Homo sapiens: one gene and its partners. The protein of the gene in region 1 interacts with the protein of each later gene in a pairwise test. Each region holds a gene or a part of one and is shown on either strand. Other genes may lie near its edges.

Evidence for each region.
Region 2: the proteins of KLHL42 (region 1) and STAM2 interact in binary tests that used the Homo sapiens proteins (3 or more experiments, as listed by UniProt).
Region 3: the proteins of KLHL42 (region 1) and FAM168A interact in binary tests that used the Homo sapiens proteins (3 or more experiments, as listed by UniProt).
Region 4: the proteins of KLHL42 (region 1) and CKMT2 interact in binary tests that used the Homo sapiens proteins (3 or more experiments, as listed by UniProt).

What each region holds. Positions count from the first base shown.
Region 1 is NC_000012.12:27,797,226-27,803,563, reverse strand, and holds the end of KLHL42 (kelch-like protein 42), read right to left. Parts: intron 6,318-6,338; coding exon of another isoform or gene 6,274-6,317; exon of another isoform or gene 5,850-6,273; coding exon 5,398-5,849; 3' UTR 524-5,397; downstream 1-523. UniProt on the Homo sapiens protein: Substrate-specific adapter of a BCR (BTB-CUL3-RBX1) E3 ubiquitin-protein ligase complex required for mitotic progression and cytokinesis. The BCR(KLHL42) E3 ubiquitin ligase complex mediates the ubiquitination and subsequent degradation of KATNA1.
Region 2 is NC_000002.12:152,123,740-152,130,769, forward strand, and holds part of STAM2 (signal transducing adapter molecule 2), read right to left. Parts: intron 2,641-7,030; coding exon 2,487-2,640; intron 197-2,486; coding exon 27-196; intron 1-26.
Region 3 is NC_000011.10:73,406,100-73,413,129, forward strand, and holds part of FAM168A (protein FAM168A), read right to left. Parts: intron 5,438-7,030; coding exon 5,295-5,437; intron 3,563-5,294; coding exon 3,388-3,562; intron 1,545-3,387; coding exon 1,432-1,544; 3' UTR 1,414-1,431; intron 646-1,413; 3' UTR 1-645.
Region 4 is NC_000005.10:81,257,316-81,264,345, reverse strand, and holds part of CKMT2 (creatine kinase S-type, mitochondrial precursor), read right to left. Parts: intron 6,614-7,030; coding exon 6,490-6,613; intron 5,227-6,489; coding exon 5,092-5,226; intron 856-5,091; coding exon 730-855; intron 1-729. UniProt on the Homo sapiens protein: Reversibly catalyzes the transfer of phosphate between ATP and various phosphogens (e.g. creatine phosphate).

The DNA of each region.
Region 1 (6,338 bases):
ATATTTGTATTTACCACATGGGATTCATGTGAGGATTAAATAATTTAAATAAAAAATGCTTAGAATAATTCCTGGGAAAAAAAAAAGTGCTCAGTTAGATTTGGGTGTCGCTCTGCTAGGTCAGCCATCCTCCTTCTCCTCCATCAGTGTGTCCTGAGTGTGTAGAAAATGGTTGTCCATTTATTTCATTTTTCTTGAGTTGGGGTCTTGCACTGTCTGCCCAGGCTGGAGTGCAGTGGTGCAATCAGATCTCACTGCAGCCCCAAACTCCTGGGCCCAAGCAATCCTCCTGCCTCAGCCTCCCAAGTAGCTGGGACTAGAGGCATGCACCACTGTATCGGCTAATTTCTTTTATTTCTATTTTTTGTAGAGACAGGATTTCACTGTTGCCCAGGCTGGTCTCAAATTCCTGGCCCCAAGCAATCCTCCCACCTCAGGCTCCCAAGTCACTTCACCCATTTCCTCCCAGTCCTGGCACAGCCCTGCATACGTAACTGATACATAGAACTTAGATAACAAAAAGTGACTGAAAACTACTTTATTTGAAGACATTTTCTTCTATAGTTCTAAACACAAAAGGAATGCTGTTATAGTGGGTATTTCATAGGCATTCTTGTATTCAAATGAATCACATAATGTTTACACTTTTAAGCTAGACTTGAAATTGAAGACTTAATACAACCTTTTAACAAAGAAAGTATCAGTCATATCAAAACATAACTATTCATTCTACAGATTATCACTTTCCCTAAAATGACTACTAGATATGAAAACATTGCAGGGACAGCTCAAGTGCCCCATTCTTAAGGGTTTTTTTTAATAGGAAAAATGACAACGTAAATCACATTTTCCTTTTCTTTACTAGTAATGAACTATGGCAATCCATTTGAGAAAGCACCAGCCAACCGTACAAGTCATTTCAGCACCCTTTGCTCTTCAAAACTGACCATCTTTTATATTTAATGCTTCCTGTATGAATAAAAATGGTTATGTCAAGTACAGACGTCAGCAACGTGTCAGTTGGTGTGAATTTATGATGTGTTCCTAAGTCAACAGAGAAAATAAAAAAAATCTCTCATGTGAATAAAATCTAAGGATGAAAAACTATCCTTTGATAATTATCACAAGGCAAAATCAACCACCTTTTCATCAGTACTAGTGTGGAATGGAAATTTCTTTATTAATACTTTTTATGGGAATGTTTTAAAGGCATAGGTATAAATGCACATGCAATCAGCTTGCCCCTCTTAGATACTAACTTCCCCAGCTTCACTCCTCCTTTTCACTGGAACAAGCTGCTGAATCCCTAACTCCAAAGTCTGCAGTGCTTGGTGAGCATTTTTAAATAAAGATTATATGTGATTTTCACTTTTTCACAAAAATGAAGTACAGAGAAGACTGAAAAGCAGTGAGAAAAAAATCATAGAGCAAAAAACTAAAACACAAGATGTGATGTTCAAATTTAAAAGAAAAACAAAACTGGTTCGTGATGATTGTTAGTAAATCACAAAAACAAAGGACGGACAGGGCCAAGACCGAAGGGACCACCAGACCACCGAGCCCCAATGTGCCAGACAAAAGTGGGCATCTTTGAGAAGGACGCCCTGGTGAAGACAATTACAGTGAACCTCTTTATAAGGCCGTAAGCTCTTCAAGGTCATGGGCCGTGACTTATTTATGTCTGTATTCTGTTCTTAGCATTGTCTTGCACATGACAGACACTCAGTATTTCTGGTAACCACAGAACTGGAGCTCAATCAGCTCACTGCTTTCAAAGTCATTTTGGTTGGTGTCTACCCACTTAATTCTTTCACTCCTCTGTCTAAGGCAGGGATGGCAAATAGCCTTCATTTCACTCTGATGGACTGGGAATAGATGTCTGGAAGCACCAATCTGACATGGATTCTAAGACCAAATCCTGGCACAGAGGACAGGAATGCTGCACTCATTCATAATGCCTCCTTAAAAGAGCGGTGGCACAGGTGTTATATATTCCCCATTCCTGGTCTAGGAAAAAGGCATCCAACACCTACTTATATTCCTTTTACATTGCTATGCTGCCTCTTGAGTGATCTGCATTAAGCCACTGTTCGTTAAATGCTGGTTGATCAGGAAGACCAAGGCCTTTCCTCTCAATTTACGTCTTTGGCCAAACAGGTAGGGTCAGAACTTCACCTGGAAATCTGAAAACACATCATCCACAATGCTCAATAGGCAACAGTCCATTGAAAGAGAACAGGTATTTACTTGATTACTCCCTTTGTAGAGAAAGAATTTTGCCCATCTCAATGGTGTGTAGCTTTCATTGATATCTAAGGCATTTGGAATTACTTAGGATCTTGGTGTTAAAAAAAAAAAAATGGCAGGGTTAAATTCTCTTTGGTTCTCATTCTAATCTTAAGACTTCTGTTTGTTTCTTCCTGGTACCCATAACCTTCTCAGCACTTCGTCGTTGTGACTTAACCAATACTGTTGAAATAATCAACTCTTTCACACATTCATCAGAAAACCTTTTAAAGGATGCTAAGGGGAGAGGCCTCTGAAAATAAGTGGGTTGAAAGGAAAGCCAGAGAGAATAACAGGAAGAACCAACCTTCTAACAACCCACACACAGGACTCTCTACCATTCAGACTGCTATCTATAAAATAGGGTGCTTCTGGTCGGGGGGCTGCCACCCCAGGTCCTCCAAGCAACCCTTTTCCCCATAGTGGGAGGTCAGCATCCCTCAGAAGCATCTCAGGAAAAAATGATAAAGCATTTAGAGAATTGGGAAGAAAATAGAGGGATACTATCAAAGAGTAAAGGACAGTCCTGGGGGATGAAGGGGGATTTTCTTTTTTCTTTTTTTTTTTTTGGAGACAGAGTCTTGCACTGTCGCCCAGGCTGGAGTGCAATGGCACAATCTCGGCTCACTGCAACCTCCGCCTGAAGGGAGATTTTCAAAGCAACATTGCCTCTATCATAGGTAGTCTTCAATGTAATACTGGCACCAACAAGAGAACCGAGCTAAATTAAAACTACCCTCAAAATGTCATCACAGCTGATGTGCACAGCAGGAAGGACGATGTCACAAAATGCACAGATCTGTTCCTATTGCACATTCCACCTTTCCCACGTACTGCTGGCAGCCCAGAATAACCAAAATCTTTTTAGATGTCTGTCTTAAAGAGAGCTATAATATGCAAACATACACACACACACACACACACACCCCCACACACACACACAACCTCAAACCTGGTTTATAAAAGAGCTTTGTGGATCAGAGTACACCCTCACTTGGTCCAAGAATCTAATTGTCAACATTAGGCAAATAGACCCAATGAATGTAACCAGGAAGAGAATTAACTGGTTGGCTGGAATATTGTATTTGATATGATATGCTTATTTGCAAACTAATCTCCAACTGTTTGTCCAGTACTAATTCAACTGACTCATCTTCTAAATGTATAGGACAAAGCCTTTAAAAAGTTAAGCTCTTCAGCAACGAAAAGTTAACACCATCTAAAATAAATAGATTTTAAAATATATGTAATGAAATTACAGGTCACTGGAAATTCAATTCTACAATGAATATAAATTAACATTAAAATCTATTAAGTACTATTCCTGGGAAGATTTTGGTTCAGAGGTTTTATTTTTTTAAGGGCTTAATATTTGGGAATAAATGGGCATAGCTTAGAAACCCTTACAAAGTTGTAAGTAGACTAGAGGTAAGATTATTTGGTGACAAGATACAAAGATCTGTTTCTATGTCCAAAATAATGGCTTACCTCATTTTAGTTAATAGAAGTATTCCCAAAAAGTTGTGCAAATAGGCTTTTTATAACTGGACGCTTATTTTAAGTATACTAGAGGCCATGGTTGTAAAGAAAACCTGTAGTCACTCCTCTAATAAACTGAAGAACTCTAAGTGATTAGCCCCTGTCCTACATCTGCACAGTGGACGGCATACTCCAGGCACTCATAAGTGTTTGTTGAATGCATGAATTCGCTCTGACAGTTTTTTTTTTCCCCTACAGGACTTTCTTAAAGTGAGGCACATGCTAACTGAAATGGTTCTGCCCGCTGTTACTGCAGAAAGATGGAATCCAGCTCACAGTTTAACTGATGCCATTACAAAATATCAGATAATTTCAGAGTGTTTTCAATCAAAATAAAATTTCCATAAGTATGAGTGTATGTATTTTTGAGGAATGTTGATCTATGATTGGCAGAAGCTTTTATTGTTAACTCACTCACTGAAAACAACTGCTTGAGCTGAATTCTATTTCAATTAACAACCAAGGCAAGTAAAGCACTTTACCTAACTTCAGAAATACCACCAGAAACCATTCCACTTCTGTAACAGCTTCTTCCCCTCACTCCAGCACAAATATTTAAATGCTGTCCTTACCTTAGTCCACAAAAGCAAAACATGAATTACAAAGCTAAGATTAAATTAGAAAGCTGCCGACTTAAATATGACAAAGTTTTTTTAGCCTTAAAATAAGAACTAAGTCAAATACATTCAACAAAAGTAACTCTTAAAGGCAAATTTTTTTCTTATTTGGTGTTTTCTTCCCTTCCCATTTAAATTTAAGACTCAATTTTTAATAATATTCATATGTCCATTTTTCTAAATAATATATCCTCTTTAAAACAATACAGAATGCCTAGCAGTGCAACCTATGTGTCCACATAAATATGCAACCTGCCACATAAATAAAATAAGAGGTTTTATCAGTCTATTTATCCAGCATTTGTAACTGCAAAAAAGGCTGGAAAAATAGCTAAGAATATTTTTATGCAAGTTTTGGGGAGGACTGAACACTGGTAAGGATTCACTGTAGGGCTCCATCATTATAAGTTTCCTAAAAAGTAGTGTGCAAACAAAATATCTGAACACAGAACCCTAAACATACTAGATGTATGTGTGGGTATGGGTGATGGAGAAGAGAGAATGAATATGTTAATATGAATGCTTGTCAAGGACACTGATAAGAAAAAGAAAACCTCTCACTTAAGGTGCTAATGATATGTCAAGGGACCTAAATACAACAGATTTTAAAATCATCTTTACCATTTGTCCCAATTATTGACTTTGGCCCTTTACCACACAGACACAATGAATCTACATTTTGATGATCCGTCATTGGCCCAAGAGTATCATGTTTGGAGATGGATTTGCTCCCATAATTTAAAAATCAATAATTTAAAAAATAACAAAGTTGGTCTCTTTTTTCCACCAGTTTTCAAGTAATTAGTTCAAGTAAGCTTATTTACAGCTGCTACTGTATATATGTGACCTACTTTAACCCTTCTTTACCCTTTAGGAATTGGTCTCCCTTGGAATGGGACACCACATTTTAAAAAAAACTTGAACCAGGTTTTTTTCATCTACCAATTCAATTCAGTCATGTTTCTGCTTTATTGGGCAGATAAAGAGAAGAAACCAGCAAGTTATGTCCAAAAGCTGGAAAACGCCGAAATGCTTCCCAACTATCTGAAAAGATGTTGTACTTGAGGAACACTCGGTGTTCCAAGCTGGTCGACAGGGTGACGTCTCTGCTCATGATGTAGATGCCGTCGTTATGGAGCGCACAAGTCAAGTTAAGACCCGATTTGGACGTGTTCTCCTTGAGGTAGAGCCACTGGCGGGTGACGGTGTTGTAGGACTGCACGGTGAGCATGTCCTCGCTCTGGCTGCTCCTGCGGTTGGGCCCCAGCTCGTGGAGACACCCCCCCACGATGTAGATGGTCTCTTCCACAGACACCATCTGCTGCTTGCGAATGTGGACGTCACATGTTTCAAAGAGCGTCCACATGTCGGAAGAGGGGCAGTACTGCAAAATGTTCATGTTCCGGTCTGAAAGAAAGAAAGACAAGTGATGACACCGCCTCCACTAACACCACTAGGCAAGTCTGTACAGAAATGTCTACCTCTGCCTGCATAATTTGGTAACAAAGAGAAAAAACTCTTTCAGAAAAAGCACAAGTTAGAAAAACAGTTTTCAAAGTGGCTGGGAAGAGATATATTTAGATCCATCCGCACTCACCTCCCACTCCCAAACGTCTCTTCCGTGGGAGACTCAGACTGGATAAAACCAGGAAAAAGCGCAGCTCTGACTTTCACACAGCCCCTCCTCCCTGGTATCCCCACACCTTTGAACCACCAGGTCAGTGTAAAAAAAGTAAGTGCCTCAGAACCCTCATCAATAGCTACAAAATTACCGACTACTTAATACAGAAGCCAGGCTGGGCAGCAAGTAGATTATTCTTGATAGCTGATCCTAAGAAACATGACAAGTAGCAACACAGGATCTCCAGAGGCTGTCTAGTGAAAAGGACACAACGT
Region 2 (7,030 bases), on another chromosome or scaffold:
AAATTAACACAGCTCCCAAAACTTACCTTAAATATGAAGTTTGAGCAGGCTGTGCTGTCACTGAGGAATTCACATTTGGAGGCAGAGATCTCAGTGGACCAATTTGATCGGGTCCTAGGCTATAGCTTTGGGCAACAGTTACTTGGTGAATGCTCTGACCCATATAGTTTCCACCATGTGATTGAACTGGATATGTCTATTAATCAGAAAGAAAAAGTTGATTCACTCATCTCCCAAACATGTGCCTAATAATATATTTAAAATGTTAAAAGACTTAAAGGAAAGAAACTATACTTCTTTGGGAAGCAATCTGATTCTACCAATCTATCCATCTTAGAACTAAAAGTGGAGAGCTGTCAAATCACAGTGCCAAATCTATGGAAATTTGATTTGTTTGGCTGTTCTTTTATTTTTACAGAGAGCTGGGAGAAAGACAGGTGGTGTACTTTTAAGTAGTGGATTGCAATCTATCCAGGTTGCCTATTACTCAGTAAAGATGTCTTGCTGTAGAGCCACAGAAAACTATACACTCCCTTGAAGGGAAGCCCACCATCACTTAAAGTCACTATAAGAATGATAACCTTCTTTACCCTCATCCCTGGATGACTCATCCAACTCCTTCCTAAGAAAGAAACTTGAGAGAAAAAGCTGAAAAAGAAATGGTATAAGGGTGCCAGGGCTTCCCTGGCAATGTCTACCTTATTCTCTACCTTTAAGACAAACAGGACAAAAGTAAAGAAGAGTTATGGGCAAAAGACATGTATCCTCAGGAAACAGCAAAAATGGTTTAGGTCTCTTTGGACATTTATATGTGCCCTACTTATTTTCAGGACAACAGCTCCTTAAGGACAGGGTCTACCACCTGTCTACTAAATATAGCATCAAAACAATGCATACATTTAATATCATATCATACCATAATGATCATCAATCCAGTTTTAAATTAAGCTATTTTTAAAGTAAATACCATTCATCTGAAAATTTAGAATGCTAGAAATGCCAAATAAGCTATATTAAGTACAATCACATTACCTCCTTAGTAGACATGTAACAATCTACTGACAATAGGCTGAGACTGTGAGAATCAGCGTCTTCTGCAGTTTAGGGTTCCTGAGTAGCCTACACAATATAACTAATGTGTTACCCCAACTGCTTCTAGTAGAGATATATTTTTGTCAAATTAGAATAGAAACTTTTGAATATTTCAAATGCTCTTGAGTGAACAGTGTAGGTACAGATTACGTGAGGAATCAAACAGAAAGTTAACTTTTTAGAGACATGAGTTGTGCTTGGCAAAACGCAGTAAGTAGAATGCAACTAAACACCAAAACCTGACACAGAATGGCAAATAACCCTTTACAGACACACAAAAAAGCAAACATAAAGTTTTATCATACAATGATGCAGACACTGCTGTTTTGTTCCACTTTCACAGCAGCAGCGAACAACTCTGAAAACAGAAGCAAACTGAATAAATCCCAAAGGTCTTTTGCAGCCAGAAAAATCTTTCCTACCCTCCTAATTTTCAAAAAGATCAAGGCATGGCATATTTGATAAATGTATCTTGTCTGACGTGACAGTTACCATAGTGACTATTCTTTTTTTACTTAACAATTATGTTGTGTCAAGTCATCTAAATTATGCACCCACATTCTACCCTTTCTCCTTGGTGTCTCCTTCACATGCACCTTTACATACCAGTTTTCATAAATTAACATGAATTTTGCTCATCCAAGCTCATTCTGAATTCAATTGGCTAATTGGCTGAAATTTCAAAAAACGCTTCCGAATGGGGATACTGACAAATGTAAGTATTCGCTTCACATGGCAAGCACACAAAAAAGGTGAAAAGTACTGGAAAAAGATGGCTTATGGATGTTCATGGATGGCTTACGGAGTCTGTACCTCCTAGACATGTATCATATCTTTGCTATGCACAGATTTTTAACAATGTAAGTCATGCAGCTAAGTAAAGGAAGTATAAAGCATACTCTAGAAGTTCATTGTGCCTGTTAATAATCATGTAAGTCAAATAAATCTTTATGGAAATTTGTAAAGAAATGTTAAATCTTGTTGAGCAGCAGGAAAGCGTTAGTACCTCACCTGGGGAACTTCTGATATGTCAGGTATTGTCCTAAATCAAAAGATTTATACTCCATATTTACAAAAAGGATTTATGTTTACATAAAAGATTTATGCTTTATACTTACAAAAGCATATGAAGAACCAGAACTACCCTCACATATTTAATGGTCTTTTCATCCATGTTAAAACTGAACTAAAATGTATTTGTGAAATATCAGTATCTGTCTAATTTGCTCTGGTGAATGTTAATTGTTTAGCCAATATTTACTGAAACAATCAAAGATAAATTTTATAATTTTATTCACAGACAAAAGAAATCTTAATACTATGCTATAAAACATTTTCTTTTACTTTTAAAAGTTGTTTATAATTTAGAAAATGTTCTCAAAAAACATGCTCACCTGCATTGGAACCCCAGATGATGCAGGTGGGTAATGTGCTGGAGGGTGGAGCTTTGAATAGACTGAGTACACTGGTGCTTCATTCACCAATTTGTTATATAGTTCCAGAGCTTCCAGGACTTTAACATTCAATTCAGACAATTCTGAATGCTTCCTGATGTAGAAGAAAAGTATTATAATACTCTTCTAGTTTTTAGCATGTATTTAGTAATATAAATTATTTTTTTAATTTAGCACAATTTCTATTAATATATTAAAAGGCTTTTTTATATTTAATGAAAGAATATTCACAAAGGGAAACTAAGAGGAAGAACTGCTTAATCCTTGTAATAGCTAGGCTGATATTGAGGCAGGAGAATAGGGTCTGGAGGCAGGGAATCTAAGGCTGATTTTCAAGCTGACTTCTTATAACTAAATTGAAAGGAAAACCAACCCTAACTTTCCACACCTAAGTAACAAAAGGACCAGAGGCTACTTCCTTTGCAAACCCCCCACGTTTTCTGTGCAGCAGATGGGAAATTGGGTGTCCGAAAAAAATCAGACTGATTACAGGTCCAGTCTCCATTTGCAACTTTGTAACTTCAGCCTCTGAATGGTTGCTGTCCACAACCAATCAGACTGACTGTGGGCGGAGTCTTCATTTGCAAAGAAATATAACTTTGTAACTTCACCCTAGCCTCTGATTGGTTGCTTTTTGCAACCAATCAGATGTTTGCACAGCAGTGTTACCTTTGTAACTTCATTTCAGCCTCTGGTTGGCTGCTTTCTGCAACCAATCAGACTGATTGTGAGCTTCCACTTCATTTACATGAGGTGAGCACGAAAAGGCCAATGGGAAACTTCTAGGGGGTACTTGGACCCAAGAAGATTCTGTATCCTGGCCCTTGAGCTGCTGCTCAGGCCCACTCCCACACTGTGGGGTGTACTTTCATTTTCAATAAAACCCTGCTTTTGTTCTTTTGTTGCTTCCATCTTTCTTTGCTTTGCTGGGCATTTTGTCCAATTCTTTGTTCAAAATGCTAAGAACATGGACAACTTGCAGTCACAATCCTCTACTGGTGACAATATGACTTTATAATATTAGGGAAAAGTCCTTCCACACCTCATAAAATGCAATCAATTCATAATTTCGGTGCTGAGAGAATTTACTTTCACACATTCTAGGTTTTTTGTTGAGAATTCAATTATTAAAAAGAAAATTCTCAATTTGGGTAAGAATCTGGGCCTTAATTAAAAATCTCAATAAAAGAAAGTACCCAGGCAAGGCTCAGAACCTCTATGAAGTACAATATGATGGAAATTTAAAAACACTTGTTAAAAAAAAACCACACACACACATTTTCATTTGTTTATATCCATGAAAGTGTCAACTGAAAAAAAAAAAACCTACTTAAATAATTATCCTTGAAAATCCAAGTAAAAACAATGTGTAAGTAAGACTAATCTCTACAGCTCATTTGTTGGTTGGTTGATTTTGAGAAAGTAAACCAATGCTTTATTATGTAATAACAACAAACCCAAATAAAAGCATCTTCAAATTTGCCCAAGAAGCTTCAGAGCAAACTCTTTCTACTTGATAGTTCCCCTGGGAGTAATAAAGAACTCTCTTTGCACTGTCAAATTTACAAAAGCTAAGCAACCACTTTTCATCTGGCCTGAAACATCCACAAGCCTTTTTACTGAATGTGGTTCTTTCTACATAAACACAGAGAGGCAACAAGCAGAGGCACACAGACAGACACAGGACTACCAAGTAAATAGCCTGGACTGAGTCCTATCAAGATTTGTCACTTTTCCTCTACTAGAGTCTGTTATGTCTGAACTACAACAACGAAAAGTCTTCTCTCTCTGGTAAGAATGACTGCATTAAGCAGGTCAAACTCTATTATCAAAAATATCAGGCCGGGCGCGGTGGCTTATGCCTGTAATCCCAGCACTTTGGGAGGCCGAGGCAGGCAGATCACGAGGTCAGGAGATCGAGACCATCCTGGCTAACACGGTGAAACCCCGTCTCTACTAAAAATACAAAACATTAGCCAGGTGTGGTGGCGGGCACCTGTAGTCCCAGCTACACGGGAGGCTGAGGCTGAGGGAAGAGAATGGTGTGAACCCAGGAGGCGGAGGTTACAGTGAGCCGAGATTGCACCACTGCACTCCAGCCTGGGCAACAGAGCGAGACTCTGTCTCAAATTAAAAAAAAAAAAAATCAGTTACAAGTCACCCAGAAAGCTACAGAAATTAGTGCCATGCTAACAAATGCATAACTAAAATGTAACCGTAGGAATTTGATCCACAAAACCCAGCATGCTGATGAAACACCAGGAAAATGCAGTAGAAAGACATGATCACTGTGTTTGAAATCCCCTTAAAGATTTGAGACACAATCCCAGAGTAATAAGGCAAAAGAGCAACTTGATCAGGTGGTAGAAAATTACCTTTGGAGGACAGGAGGAAATAAGATTAGAATAGTCTGGAACATAGTTAAGTCCAGACTATGAATCTCTCTTCAACAAATCTACCTAAACTTTTATGGAGTCAATTTACATGTTTACTCAATATAATTTCTTAGGCTGATAAAATGCTACAAAATTTCATTCTGTACAATGACAAAAATGAAATGTACAATTTAACTTTCTAACAGTAGAGATGTTTTTCTTAGTAGGAATAACAAACATGATCCATTCAAGGGAAAAAAGGATATTTTATTCATCTTTGAATACTTGACAAGGGTAAATAATAGTCAATAAGAATTTGTTGAAGAACAGGAAACATTTCCCAGAACAGGAGCTGCATCTGCAGCTGTGGCCATAGAACAAGAAAAAATGCCAGTTGGCCTATTCAAAAACTGAAACTGGTAAGAAAAATGGTTAATGGTTGAGTTCTCACTCAAAAAATTAACTAATATCAGAATGGTCACTTTGATTTTTTTTTCTTTTGAGAGCAGATCTCACTGTGTCACCCAGACTGGAGTACAGTGGTGCAACCGTGGCTCACTGCAGCCTCCTTGACCTCCCAGGCTCAAGTGATCTTCCCACCTCAGCTTCTTGAGGAGCTGGGACTACAGGCGCACACCACCAAGCCCAGCTAATCATTAAAAAATTTTTTTGTAGAGATGGGGTCTCACTGTATTACCCAAGTTGGTCTCAAATTCCTGGGCTCAGATGATTCTCCCACTTCAGCCTCCTGAAATGCTGGGATTATAGGTGTGAGCCCCCACACTGGCCTCAATCTGACTTCTAATTCTTCTAGATCTTTTCCTTTAACAAAATTCTTTTTATGAACCAAAAATAAGATTAAATTGTCATAGTTTCTGCCTTTTTTCATTATATAATATCTGCTCATATCAAGGGATAATTATCAAGGACAATGATTTCCATTGTAGAATGTGTGGACATACACTCAGCCCTCCATGTCCATGGGTTCTGCATCCGTGCACTCAACCAACTTCAAATTGAAAATACAAAAAATTAAAAAAAATTGTGTCTGAACTAAACATACAGCCACATCTATCATAATACTTTTTAATCTTTTCCAGTTTGATTATTCACTGAACATTAACATGCTGCATTGAAACAAAGTAGATGTGTAACGAGATATTTAATGCTTTCTCTAAAATATGGCAAAACTACTGTTAATTGCCACACAGATTTTTCATTTCTTTAGAAAACACAACAAATTTATTTTTAAAATGTCCCCTGGAACAAAGACGACAATCTCTGGTGACTAGGAAAAGTCCTGCTGCTACTGCACTTCTCTGGCAGAGGCAGAAAAGAAGTAGTTTATATTCTCCTTCTTATTTTGGTCCTATCTAATCTTTTCTTCTTGTGCTGCTTATATATTAATTCAATAAATACCACTAGAAAGGGATGATGATGGAATACTAAGCCCTATCCCTTGTTTTCCTTTCACTACAGGTTCTCCCTATGACTTCAGATAGAGAGCTGAGAAATAAGGGAGCAGAACCAAGTTAAAAGCTCAAAACCCTGAAAGTCTACCCCCTTCAGTGTTGCTCCTATTTTATTTTTATTTATTTATTTATTTTTTGAGACCGTGTCTTGCTCTTTTGCCCAGGCTGGAGTGCAGTGGCGAGATCTCGGCTCACTGCAAGCTCCGCCTCCTGGGTTAACGCCATTCTCCTGCCTCAGCCTCCCGAGTAGCTGGGACTACAGGCCACCACCACCACGCCCGGCTAATTTTTTGTATTTTTAGTAGAGACGGGGTTTCACCATGTTAGCCAGGATGGTCTCGATCTCCTGACCTCATGATCCACCCGCCTCGGCCTCCCAAAGTGCTGGGATTACAGGCTTGAGCCACTGCGCCTGGCCGCTCCTATTTTTAAAGGACAATAAGGGACAGGCACAGTGGCTCATGCCTATAATCCCAGCACTTTGGGAAGCTGAGGCAGGAAGATCACTTGAGGCCAAGAGTTTGAGACCAGCCTGGGCAGCACAGCAAGACCCTGTCTTTAAAAAAAAAAAAAGCTGGGCATAAGGCTGGGTGCAGTGGCTCACACCTGTAATCCCAACACTTTGGGAGGCTGAGGT
Region 3 (7,030 bases), on another chromosome or scaffold:
CAATGCCCTCCCTCCCCCCACCCTCCCCCAAATTCTAAAGACTTTTTTCCCCAGGTTCTCAGCCTGGGGTATTAAGCTGCTAATAACACGCCTACATACTCAGGTGGTTTTGTTCTTGGTCTGTTGCAATGGTTCTCAGGAGACATTTCATTTGTGTCTGGGACATGGGAATGTCCTGAACTAATCTTGCTTAAGAAAAAACAACCAGAACACTCCCCTAGAGATGTAGCCTGCTCAACAGCTCTGAGTTCCTACCCTGGACCACATCTGTTTATGCTCTTCAAATGGAATCCAGCCTTCAGATGAACCACTGCAATAAACCCTACTCTCTGCTTGCCTCTAGACTGGGATCCCCAGGGACAGGACACTTAGGGAAGAGCAGAGAGGACATGGCCTGGTCAGGTAGGAGGAAGGGGATAGAGCTGGAAGGGCAGGGGCTAAGAGGGGGACAGTTGGGGAGAGGCAGGAGATTAGAAAAAGCAGCTTTTACAAAAACCAAAAATAAAAATCAAAACCATTAAAGATGCATAAAGTGACCCTTGCACTTCCGTTGTCTCTTCTTGCAAATAGAGGTGGTGCTGCTAGGGAACTGCTCCAGCACCGGTGTAAGACTTGAGTAGTTGCATACAATGTGTGACTCCAGATCTGCAGAGGGAAAGGGGAAAGAAACAGTGTCAGTGATATTCAGGAGGCTTCTCCCCTCAACTCGGGAGCCCGCTGTGCCTTCCTAGTGAAGCTGCCTGCCTCCCGCCTGTGGAAGTTGTTGTGCTCTGGTGCCAAGAGCCCTGGAGGAGATGGGGGAGGCCAGATGATGTGGGGGGCCAGAGGATTTCAAAGTGACATCCCTGGAGCCCTATGGTTCACTGTCACTGCCTCAGGAGCTGCTGAGGGGACCAAGGAAGCCAGAGGTCTGGGTCAGCCCAAAGCCTCCAAATAGCTCCAACCAAAGCTCTTAACATATGATCTGGGCAAGAGTTCATTTGAAGAATGGGGCCCATAGTTAAAAGAAGTCCGAAGACCATAAGGTAAATGGCACAGAATTTAGTACTAGAGAACTGAAGTTTAAGCCCTAGCTTAATTTTTACTGGCTAAGTGATATTTAACTACATATTTATCTGTAAAATAGAGCTAATGATCCTTATTTCACAGAGCAACTATAAGGATTATGAGATAACATAAGCAAAGGGATAGCTATTATTATTTCTGTTATTATTTAGATTTCAACAAGCAGTCAACAGAAGTGATAGCTATTATTAAGAGTGATATTATGGACCTTGGAGCAGGAAAGCAACTGGTAACTTGACAGCTGTTACCTGCCCTAGCTGACACCTGTGCTCCAGACCCAAACCAGGGACTTTGAGGCAGTTCCTGTATGTATCCCCCTCCCACTTCTCTCACCCTGGCCACACTCACTTGGATGGGCTGCAGGCTTTACCAGTGTGGGGGCACGTAGCTGTACGCAGGGGTTCCTTGGGCCCTATATGTTGGCATGGAGACAGGGTGTGCCCCAATCGCCGTGTGCTGGGGTGTAGTCAGCAGGGTACCTGAGCATCCAGAGAGAGAAGAGTAACCTGACGAGGCTGCACCAGACACAGGAATGAAGAGGATGAAGCTACAGTCTTTCACATGGCTGCTCCCTCTGCCCAAATCCCCCATCTCCCTCGCCTTCCTGATGACCTGTTTTCTGCCCTTCTCCACCTCACCAGGCTTCACCTCCTTAGGGGAATTTTTTCTGATGCTTGAGGACAGAATCAATGACTATTCTAAGTCCTCCTTTTCCTTTTTTCTTTGAGACGGAGTCTCGCTCTGTCGCCCAGGCTGGAGTGCAATGGCGCGATCTCAGCTCACTGCAGCCTCTGCCTCCTGAGTTCAAGCGATTCTCCCGCGTCAGCCTCCTGGGCAGCTGGGATTACAGGTGCCCATCACCACACTCGGCTGATTTTTTATTTTTACTAGAGATGGGGTTTCACCATGTTGGCCAGGCTGGTCTCGAACTCCTGACCTCAAGTGATCCGCCCACCTCGGCCTCCCAAAATGCTGGGATTACAGGCATGAGGCACCACGCCCGGCCTTCCTTTTACTTTTCTTTGTATGCTTCTCTTATTGCACAATCATACTGAGTAGTAATTGTGATGTCTGTGGCTGTGTTTCCCACACTAACCTGGGTGTTCCTTAAGGACAGTGTTCTGATCTGATCTATTGATATTGGGTTCCCAGGACCTGAACAAGGCTGGCACTGAGTAGATATCCAACAGTTTGCCAACTTGATCTGAGGAGTAAGAGGCCTCAACCATACCCTTACGTTAGGGACAGAATAAAATCCAAATGCTCACTCTACCCCTTGTACTTTCTTACCTCAGATGGTATCCTAGCTGGTTCTTTAAAAGTTGGGTCTCTAGGCTAGGCATAATGGCTTATATCTGTTACCCCAGTATTTGGGAGTCTGAGGTGGGTGGATCCCTTGAGCCCAAGAGTTCAAGACCAGCCTGTGCAACATGGTGAAACCCTGCCTCCACAAAAAAACACAAAAATTAGCTGGGTGTAGTGGCGCATGCCTGTGGTCCCAGCTACTTGGGAGGCTGAGGTGGGAAGATCACTTGAGCCCAAGCAGATCAAGACTGCAGTAGGCCAAGATCGTGCCACTGCACTCCAGCCTGGGTGACAAAGCAAGACCCTGTCTCAAAAAAAAAAAAAAAAAACCTAACAGTCCTTGGGGACTTCTGCTTTTGTCATCCCTCATAATTATTATAATTATTGCACAGGTCCTTAAGCTCCTGCCTAATAAAGAACATTGCCCCTGTGTCTTCTTTTTTGGCGCCCCTGCTGTTACTGGAGTGCTAGCATCATCTCTCTCCCCTAAAGTACACTGACAGCCTCCTCACTGACCTACTTGCTTCCAGATCACCCCTTCTAATCCTGTCTCCACTCTGCAGCCAGAGAATGTTTAAACCTAACCACATCCCTGCCCTGCTTGACCCCCATTGTGTGCAACAGAGGTACCACAAGGTATTCAGGACTTTCCACCATCTTATCCTTGCTAGCGATCCAGCCACCTTCCAACTCCAAGCCCCTATTTCCGAAGGGCCTTGGCTCCATTCCTCCATTCTGTGAACATGCCATGTTCATGTTCTTTCTGCACCACCCTTCCCTCTTTCACTTCTCTAGTTAGCCTGTGTTCACCCTTTAAGGCCTAGCTCGATACGTCCTTCTTGGTGAAATCTTCCTCATCCCCATAGACAGATTTAGAGGCTCCTTCCTCTGGGTTCCCAAGCCCCCTGGCACAGGATCTCTTGTGCTGTGCTGCAGCCAATTCTATGACTGTGTTCTCTGCTCCGTTTTGAGTTCCTAGAGGAAAGGGATGGACACTGATGCAGATGCTGCCCTCACCTGCTGACATTGCCATGGTGGTGCCTGCCACCATGCCCATGGCCACACCGTTGGTCCTCGGGGCGGCAACAGGTGCTGGGTAGATAGCAGAGGGAATGCTGTTGGGCTGGACGACCGTGGTATGGTGGATGACATGAGGCTGGGCAGCATACACCGGCTGTGTGTAGTAGGCTCCCTGGGGGAAAGAGGCTGAGGTCACATAGGCATTTGGAGAGGTAGGTGGGATATGGAGAGAGCAGCACTGGCTGAAGGACACAAGGTCCGGACCCCAGCTGGGGCTCTGCTTGTCTTACTATGTGACTGTGGTCAGTGCAGTGCTGGGCTCAGCTTCTGGTCTGAAAAATAAGGCTCTAATCCTGTCCTGCCTTGCTCATAAGGCTGCTATGATGATCTAATGGGATAAGAGCTCTACTCCCTTAACCTTGGTTTTAGCATTTTAAAATGTTTTATCTTACTGCAATGAACTTTTATAAGCTGCCTAAAATTTAAAGTTAGGAATAACAATCAATCAGTTACCAAGCATGTGAACAGGGCTGGTAAACTCCAGAACACATACACAAAAGGATAATTAGTAGTAGTATCATAATGGTGTAAGTGCATGTTGTAAAAAAAAAAAGTACATGTTGAAAAAAAATGGCGGCTGGACACAGTGGCTCACGTCTGTAGTTCCAGCACTTTGGAGGCCAAGGCAGGCAGATCACTTGAGGTCAGGAGTTCGAGACCAGCCCGACCAGCATGGTGAAACCCCATCTCTACTAAAAATACAAAACAATGAGCCAGGCATGGTGGCACATGCCTGTGGTCCCAGCTACCTGGGAGGCTGAGGCAGGAGAATGGCTTGAACCCGGGAGGCGGAGGTTGCAGTGAGCTGAGATCACGCCACTGCACTCCAGCCTGGGTGACAGAGCAAGACTCCGTCTCAAGAAAAAAGAAAAAAAAAAAAAGGCATACATGGATAGCATTTTCCAGGATGTCTCTTAACTAGCTATTTCCCTTTAGGTAAAAAGGTAAGGATGAAGAAGACAGTGGTCCAAGGTGACTCCCAATGCCTGAATCACATGGCTGCTTCCTGCTGCCACAATCCACTGGCCCACTGACTTGTAGGGGAAGTAAACAGGAGCCCCTGAGATCATCTTAATTCAGAAATCTTCAAATGTTTCTACTAAATGAGATTAAAAAAAATAAAACAAGAGGCTTGAGATCAATTTAAGTTTTGTCTTCTACTCTAAAATATAGCTGTTTTTTAAACTAAAAAAGTATTCTCCTCACCACTTATGTTTCCTATAGAGTCACTCCAGAAGAATGTGTCATGGGTGTGCTAGAGCCCCATATGGTCCCCTCTCTCATACCAATCCTGGAATGCATACATCTTCTAGCTGAAGGAGCCCAGAAAGGCCCATCAGGCACAGAAAGAGAGGGTAACTTGTCCAAGGTCACAGAGGATACTGGTGGCAGGGCCTGTGTACTTTCCTCCTCCCCACTCAGCTCACAGACTGAGGAAGGGTAGATGTGGGGGTTAGGGAGAAAAGACTAAGACGTTGGGGTCTCACCTTGACCAACCAATAGCTCGTGGTGTAACCTTGGACAAGTCATTCCCCTCTTTGGGTCTCAGTTTCCTCACTTGTTTAACAAAGGAGTTGAGCTAGAAAATCTCTGAGGGCCTTTGTCCTCTGACATTCTGGGCTCTGTTAATCTAAATGACTTCATGCCTACCCCCTCTAGGGGCTGAGGTGGAGTGAGGGAGTAAGCAGACTGCAGGGATATTGCTTCAGTGATACAACAAGGACGGCTAGCCAGAGCCACAAACCATCCTCTCCTTCCCTCACTTCCTCACCCTACCCCACCACACTGCACCCAGGCTGAAGGCTCCTCTACCTGCAGAAGAGGTGGCTTTGACATGTACCTACCTGGGCATACAGATTCTGCTGGGGGTAGGCACTTCTGATTGGATACATGGCCGTCTGATAGGGGTTGGGTGATGGGGAGTAGGGGGGTGGAGCAGTGTTACTCTGGGTCGGTGGGACCTTGTATGGTGTCCCCGCAGTATATCCTGTACCAAGGCAATAAGAGAGACTTCCAGTTAGTTGGCAGAAAAGCATTGCTAGAAGGCAGCAGGTCCCAGTCACGACTCCCCAGACAAAGATGGGCTGAATCCAGGCTGGAAACAGAGATGAGAACAAACAGAGAACAGGGCTCCACCCAGAAAGCCCTGGCCCCAGAGGCAGCTCCCTCAGTCCTGGTGCACAGGGCTGCATGGATGATTCTGGGCATCTTTTCTTTCTCTGGGTCTCAGGGCTCTCATCTATAAAATAAGAGGCTAGAACCACATGGTCCCTTTTAGCTCTGACAGCCTGGGATTTGGAGCTGTCTGTGTGAAATGGGCAGGTGCACAGAGATGGAAACCCTCAACTCACTTGCTCTTTATTGCTACTCTACTTGCTTTTCTGTCTTCTCACACAGAATCCAGGGTATCTTTTTGCTGCTGTTTCTGTCTTTCTCTCTTTTGCTCTATTTCTTTTTCTCCTTATCTCTCTCTCTCTCACTCTCTTCTTGGACTTCCCTCCATCATGTTCCCTCCCCTCCCCACCAAGTTTGAAGGTGAAAACCCCATACAAAACACCATTCGGAGACCCTCATCTTCTGGGATGCTGACCATACAAAACACCATTCGGAGACCCTCATCTTCTGGGATGCTGACCATACAAAACACCATTCAGAGATCGTCATCTTCTAGGATGCTGAAAAACTTTGCTCTGCAGAGTTGGCTCCTCCTTCTCTCCTGGGCTCTAGGGGAAGGCCACCTCTGCCTGAAAATACCTGAAGTCAGGGATCACAAAGATTCACATCAACCTGGAACCTGGGCCATGTCTGTCCCTCAGCAGGATGGACAAAAGCTGGAGCTAAGAATGGGGCTGAGAAGTCAGGCCCCAAGAAGCTCACAATTGCCCATGTAAATAAACTGTGCTGCCTTTTAATCCTCCGGAAAAGAGTGACAGATCCTTTGTTCACAGAAAAAAACTTGAAACATGAGTCATTCAGGAACAACACTGTCTCCTTTTAGAATCACAAAATGGAATCGTTCTACGGAACCCAAGTGATCATCAAGGGACTCCAATCCTTGGACTTTACACAAGGGGATCCTGGGCTCAGAAAAGGCAAGTCTTTTTAATAACTTCTCCTAAAGACTCTAAACTCTTCTAAGTTGAAGGGACAGTGCCTGAGGACCTAGGCTTTGAAGCCCTGCTGGGGAGGTGCTGAGGTGGCTTCTTTCCTGTGGTTCCATCTTGGGTAAGTCTAGCAGACCTCACTGAACCTCTCTGGGCTTCAGCTCTTTCACCTATAAGATGCTCACCAAGGACCCTTTCAGCTCCGAGGTGCTGTTTCTATCATATAATAAGGGACTAGGGGCAGAGTGGAGGGAGTGCTTTATTGGAAGAGAAGACATCTAGTCTTCAGTCCTGGCTTTCCCCCTAATTTTTCATGACAATTGTCAAGTCTTTGGGCCTTAGTTTCTTATTTTGTAAAATCAGGTGGCTAAGAATGAAGATCTCTTCCTAAACAAAAATTCCATGGTTCTAAAGATCCTGGGTCTCTTCTACCTTAACCCCAAGTAAAAGCAAACTACCACATGGTCACAAATCTT
Region 4 (7,030 bases), on another chromosome or scaffold:
ATTAATGATGGGCATAATATGTCCAATGGGACCACATCCAGATAGGCTGGTATAACTTACCATGATCAGTATTTGCTTAGCATTCAGCTGCATGTTCCTTACATGTGATCTTTTTGCCTCATTCATTGTTTCAGGCCACACAAAGTCTATGAATCCTTTTCATCCTACATATTCATCACAGAATCCTAAGGATTTTATGAGCACAAACTTATCTAAACCTAGCACATAACATAGTTGCTATCTTTAGCCTAAGAAATAAAAGTTTAGAAACCATCGAGTATCTAAGAACACCAAAGTGAAGATGATCATTTGTAGCCTTCACCAAAGAAAATTCAGAACCAAGAGAAAATTCCACTATTTTGCCACCCTCAGAGGGATAGCATAGATGTTCTGACTTTACAGTAATAAAAAAACTGCAGTCCTTTAGCATAACAGAGCTCCTGCTCGCTGAGGATTGTTGGAATAGCTCTCATGGCAGGTCGGTGACAACAGTCCCACTGTGAATTCCTATACTTGCCTATAAATTCTCAGCTCACATTATGTTTCCCTTTATGCAGTTATTTCCCATGGAAGAATAATGTTACAGAATGAAAAGCTAACATAACTCAGGACTCAATGGGCGAAGAGGAGGTCTCGAATTTTGTGAAAACGGCTAGGCTGTTTGCTTTTCTCTATTCTCTCTTAGGCTGATTTTGTTAGTTCATGTTAGGAAAGTGAGAGAGACGTTACCTCTGATCGACCAATTCTATCTATGTTGGAAATGTCGTACACATCTGCGACCGCGGCAGTGTCCACACCACCTGTGCCACGCTTCTGGAGTCTTAGGTTTTCCAGGATCTTAGAAAAGCGTGGGTCCTAGGACAAAGGGATAATACTTAAATGTGCTAAGAGGCAAAATTGATTCATAATCATTGGTGCGTTTACTGACAAAAGACATATAGTGAGAGATAACAGTTTAACTTTTTATATATATAATAAATATATATATTTATAATAGATATATATATTGAATATATAGATTAACTAAATAAAGCGTTCTGGGATACATGTGCAGAACGTGCAGGTTTGTTAAATAGGTATACATGTGCCATGGTGGTTTGCTGCACCCATCAATCCATCATCAACCTTAGGTATTTCTCCTAATGCTATCCCTCCCCAAACCCCCACCCCCCAACTGGCCCCAGTGTGTGATGTTTCCCTCCCTGTGTCCATGTGTTCTCATTGTTCAACTCCCACTTATGAGTGAGAACATACAGTGTTTGGTTTTCTGTTCTTGTGTTAGTTTGCTGAGAATGATGGTTTCCAGCTTCATCCATGTCCCTGCAAAGGACATGAACTCATCCTTTTTTATGGCTGCATAGTATTCCATGGTGTATGTGTGCCACATTTTCTTTATCCAGTCTATCATTGATGGGCATTTGGGTTGGTTCCAAGTCTTTGCTGTTGTGAACAGTGACTCAATAAACACACGTGTGCATTTGTCTTTATAGAATGATTTATAATCCTTTGGGTATATACCCAGTAATGGGATGGCTGGGTCAAATGGTATTTCTGGTTCTAGATCCTTGAGGAATTGCCACACTGTCTTCCATAATGGTTGAACTAATTTACACTCCCACCAACAGTGTGAAAGCATTCCTATTTCTCCACATCTTCTCCAGCAACTGTTTCCTGACTTTTTAATGATCACCATTCTAACTGGCCGTGAGATGGTATCTCGGTGTGGTTTTAATTTGCATTTATCTAATGACCAGTGATGATGAGCTTTTATTTCATGTTTTTTGGCCACATAAATGTCTTCTTTTGAGAAGTGTCTGTTCATATCCTTTGCCCACTTTTTGATGGGGTTGTTTTTTTCTTGTAAATTTGTTTAAGTTCCTTTTAGATTCTGGATATTAGCCCTTTGTCAGATGGATAGATTGCAAAAATTTTCTCCCATTCCGTAGGTTGCCTGTTCACTCTGATAATTTATTTTGCTGTGCAGAAGCTCTTTAATTAGATCCCATTTGTCAATTCTGGCTTTTGTTGCCATTGCTCTTGGTGTTTTAGTCATGAAGTCTTTGCCCATGCCTATGTCCTGAATGGTATTGCCTAGGTTTTCTTCTAGGGTTTTTATGGTTTTTAGGTCTTATGTTTAAGTCTTTAATCCATCTTGAGTTACTTTTTGTATAAAGTGTAAGGAAGGGGTCCAGTTTCAGTTTTCTGCATATGGCTAGCCAGTTTTCCCAACACCATTTATTAAACAGGGAATCCTTTCCCCATTTCTAGTTTTTGCCAGGTTTTTCAAAGATCAGATGGTTGTAGATGTGTGATGTTATTTCTGGGGCCTCTGTATGTTCCATTGGTCTATATATTTGTTTTGGTACAAGTACCATGCTGTTTTAGTTACTGTAGCCTTGTAGTATAGTTTGAAGTCAGGTAGCATGATGCCTCCAGCTTTGTTCTTTTTGCTTAGGATTGACTTGGCTATATGCGCTCCTTTTTGGTTCCATATGAAATTTAAAGTAGTTTTTTCTAATTCTGTGAAGTCAATGGTAGCTTGATGGGGATAGCATTGAATCTATAAATTACTTTGGGCAGTATGGCCATTTTCACTATAATTGATTCTTCCTATCCATGAGCATGGAACGTTTTTCCATTTGTTTGTCTCCTCTTTTATTTCTGAGTAGTGGTTTGTAGTTCTCCTTGAAGAGGTCCTTCACATCCCTCGTAAGTTGTATTCCTAGGTATTGTATTCTCTTTGAAGCAATTGTGAATGGGAGTTCATTCATGATTTGGCTCTGTTTGTCTATTGGTGTATAGGAATGCTTGTGATTTTTGCACATTGATTTTGTATCCTGAGACTTTGATGAAGTTGCTTATCAACTTAAGATTTTGGGCTGAGATGATGGGGTTTTCTAAATATACAATCATGTCATCTGCAAACACAGACAACTTAACTTCCTCTCTTCCTGCGTGAATACCCTTTCTTTCTTTCTCTTGCCTGATTGCCCTGGCCAGAACTTCCAACACTATGTTGAATAGGAGTGGTGGGAGAGGGCATCCCTGTCTTGTGCAGTTTTCAAAGGGAATGCTTCCAGCTTTTGCCTGTTGGCTGTGGGTTTGTCATAAATAGCTCTTATAATTTTGAGATATGTTCCATCAATACCTAGTTTATTGAGAACTTTTAGCATGAAGGGCTGCTGAATTTTGTCAAAGGCCTTTTCTGCATCTATTGAGATAATCATGTGGTTTTTGTCATTGGTTCTGTTCATGGGATGGTTTACGTTTATTGATTTGTGTACGTTGAACCAGCCTTGCATCTCAGAGATGAAGCTGAGTTGATTTTGGTGGATAAGCTTTTTGATGTGCTGCTGGATTCGGTTTGCCAGTATTTTATTGAGGATTTTCACATCAGTGTTCATCAGAGATATTGCCGTGAAATTTTTCTTTTTTTATTGTGTCTCTGCCAGGTTTTGGTATCAGGATGATGCTGGCCTCATACAATGAGTTAGGGAGGAGTCCCTCTTTTTCTATTGTTTGGAATAGTTTCAGAAGGACTGGTACCAGCTCCTCTTTGTACCTCTGGTAGAATTCAGCTGTGCATCTGTCTGGTCCTAGACTTTTTTTGGTTGGTAGGCTATTAATTACTGCCTTAATTTCAGAACTTGTTTTTGGTCTATTCAGAGATTTGACTTCTTCCTGGTTTAGTCTTGGGAGGGTGTATGTGTCCAGGAATTTATCCATTTCTTCTAGATTTTCTAGTATATTTGCACAGAGGTGTTTATAGTATTCTCTGATGGTAGTTTGTATTTCTGTACGATCAGTGGTGATAGCCCCTTTATCACTTTTTATTGTGTCTGTTTGATTCTTCTCTCTTTTTAGCCTGACTAGTGGTCTATTTTGTTAATCTTTTCAAAAAACCCGCTCCTGGATTCACTGATTTTTTGAAGGTTTTTTTGTGTCTTTGTGTCTCTATCTCCTTCAGTTCTGCTCTGATCTTAGTTATTTCTTGTCTTCTGCTAGCTTTTGAATTTGTTTGCTTTCACTTCTCTAGCTCTTTTAATTGTGATGTTAGGGTGTCGATTTTAGATCTTTCCTGCTTTCTCCTGTGGGCATTTGCTGCTATAAATTTCCCTCTAAACACTGCTTTAGCTGTGTCCCAGAGATTCTGGTACATTGTGTCTTTGTTCTCATTGGTTTCAAAGAACTTATTTATTTCTGCCTTTATTTCGTTATTTACCCAGTAGTCATTCAGGAGCAGGTTGTTCAATTTCCATGTATTCGTGCGGTTTTGAGTGAGTTTCTTAATCTTGAGTTCTAATTTGATTGCACTGTGGTCTGAGAGACTGTTATGATATCCGTTCTTTTGCATTTGCTGAGGAGTGTTTTACTTCCAATTGTGGGGTCGATTTTACAATAAGTGCGATGTGATGCTGAGAAGAATGTACATATTCTGTTGATTTTGGGTGGATAGTTCTATAGATGTGTATGAGGTCCACTTGGTCCAGAGCCGAGTTCAAGTCCTGCATATCCTTGTTAATTTTGTCTGGTTGATCTAATATTGACAATGGGGTGTTAAAGTCTCTCACTGTTATTGTGTGGGAGTCTAAGTCTCATTGTAGGTCTCTAAGAAGAGTGCTCTAAGACAGCGTTCCTCCAAGTGTAGTCCCTTGACCAACAACCCCGGCATCACCTGGAAACTTGTTAGAAATGTGAATTCTGCAGGTGGGGCCTAGCAACTTGTGTTTTACCAAGTCCTTCAGGTGATCTCTTGCATGCTCAAGTTTGAGAACTGCTTGAACTAGGAGAGATGGAGAAAGGAGATAGAAAGAACCAGAGAGAGCAGAGCCTACCTATCCTGATTTGTTACATGAGGAAAAATGTAAAGGCCTTATTCTTGAAGCTACCATCTTTTTCTTACAGCCCCTGAACCTTTTATTCTAACTAATACAAATGTCTTTGGAGGCAAACTTAATTTTTTTCTTATTTTTATATTGTAGATAGAGAAAGTAAGGGTTAAGGAATGGGCAGTGATGTTTTCTTCCTCCACAAAGCAGTCGCATCTGAGCTGATCCTGGCCCATCAGGGCCACTGGGCACATAACAGTACCTTGCTGAGCTTTGGGATCCTAACGTGGACACCAGCTCGTAGTCCTGTTCCAAGGTTCGAAGGACAGGTCAAAATGTATCCTAGGCGCTCATTCCACATGAACTCCCAGCCTCGTTCTTGGATTAACCGTTCTACCTACAAGTAGAACCACAGTGAACAAATGACAGCATTTTCCAACATCCATTCATTCAGCACATCCCTAACACCAGAGAGAGAGATGTGTACCCTCCTCTGGCATGAATGAAATTAAGGTAAATTTATAGTACTCCTTTAAGAGAAAATAATACCTCTCCTACCAGACTATTAAAATGGCCCAATTAAGTTAAATGAACCATGTAAAGCAGTGGTCCCCAACCATTTTTGCATCAGGGACCGGTGTCTTGAAAGATAATGAATGTTTTAAGACAATTCTTCCACAGATCGTAGGGAGGGAATATTTTGGGATGAAACTGTTGTTCCACCTCAGATCATCAGGCATTAGTTTCTCATAAGGAGCACGCAACCTAGATCCCTCACATGCGCAGTTCACAATAGGGTTTGTGCTTCTATGAGAATCTCATGCCTCTGCTGATCTGACAGGAGGCAGAACTCAGGTAGTAATGCTGGCTTACCCACCACTCACCTCCTGCTGTGCGGCCCAGTTCCTAACAGGCCACAGACCTGTACCAGGTCCGTGGCCCCGGGGTTGAGGACCCCTGATGTAAAGCAGTCAACATAGTACCTGGCCTGTACTAAGCACTTGATGAATGTTAGTTGGTGGCATTTTTCATGCCAAGAGAGTAGGAGAATACAGGAATTATCAGCAGGTGAGTCTATGGTCAGGCTACATTCTCTGTCATCTGTATGCTTAGAATAGCTCAGAGCGATATTAAATAAATCAAAAAACAAGTAATGATCCACAGACTTCCCCAAACCACAGTGGAATGGGGAAGTAAGCGTAATAGCTTTCTAATAACAAGAGAAAGTCACTTATTTTCTGAAGCACTACCTTGGAAGTTGCACTCCAAAAAATGCCTTGAGGCTGGGCGTGGTGGCTCATCCAAAAAATGCCTTGAGGCTGGGCGTGGTGGCTCATGCCTGTAATCCCAGCACTTTGAGAGGCTGAGGCCAGCAGATCACCTGTGGTCAGGAGTTCGAGGCTAGTCTGGCCAACATGGTGAAACACCCCTCTCTACTAAAAATACAAAAATTAGCCAGGTGTGGTGGTGGCACCTGTAATCCCAGCTACTCTAGAGGCTGAGGCGGGATAATCACTTGAACCTGGGAGGCGGCAGTTGCTTTGATTTCTAGAAAAAAATTAGCTCCATCTTGGAAGTTACCATAGTGTCTTCTTTCAAGAACAAACAATACGGTAATTTTATTTTAATAAATATCCAGAAATCTCAGATAACATCTTACTTCTTTTAGTCCACGACAGAATCGCTCAAATACTCGTTTCATATTGCCTCCTTTTTCCATTGAGATTACCCTGGTGTGATCCTCCTCATTTATCCAGATGAGAAATGTCTTATCATAATTATGCCTAATGAAGAGAGAAATATGGTACTGAGTGTTAATTGCATTTGTTTCAACACATGAAAATTCCCATTACCTCCCTAGCTTGATTGCTTCATTTCACCTTCCTCATTTCCTAGATGGCCCTAATCTCTTAACTGTGCCTGAACAAGTATGACAAAATAATGTTACTTTGACAGAAGGAAGATTAAGACCAACTCTCACCCTAAAAGATGTCATGTTTTTACCAAACAAGAATATAATTAATTCCCCCTAGGTCCTCTGACTAGGATGACAGTAATTCAACTATATAACATTTGGCTTCGACATTAACAAGAATGTTTTGTCTCCTAAAAGATTCAACCAAAATCTTGTGCTCTAAAAAGCGGGTGGGGGTTACCTTCCACCCAAGATGTTGAAGGTACACAACATTTCACACATTTGC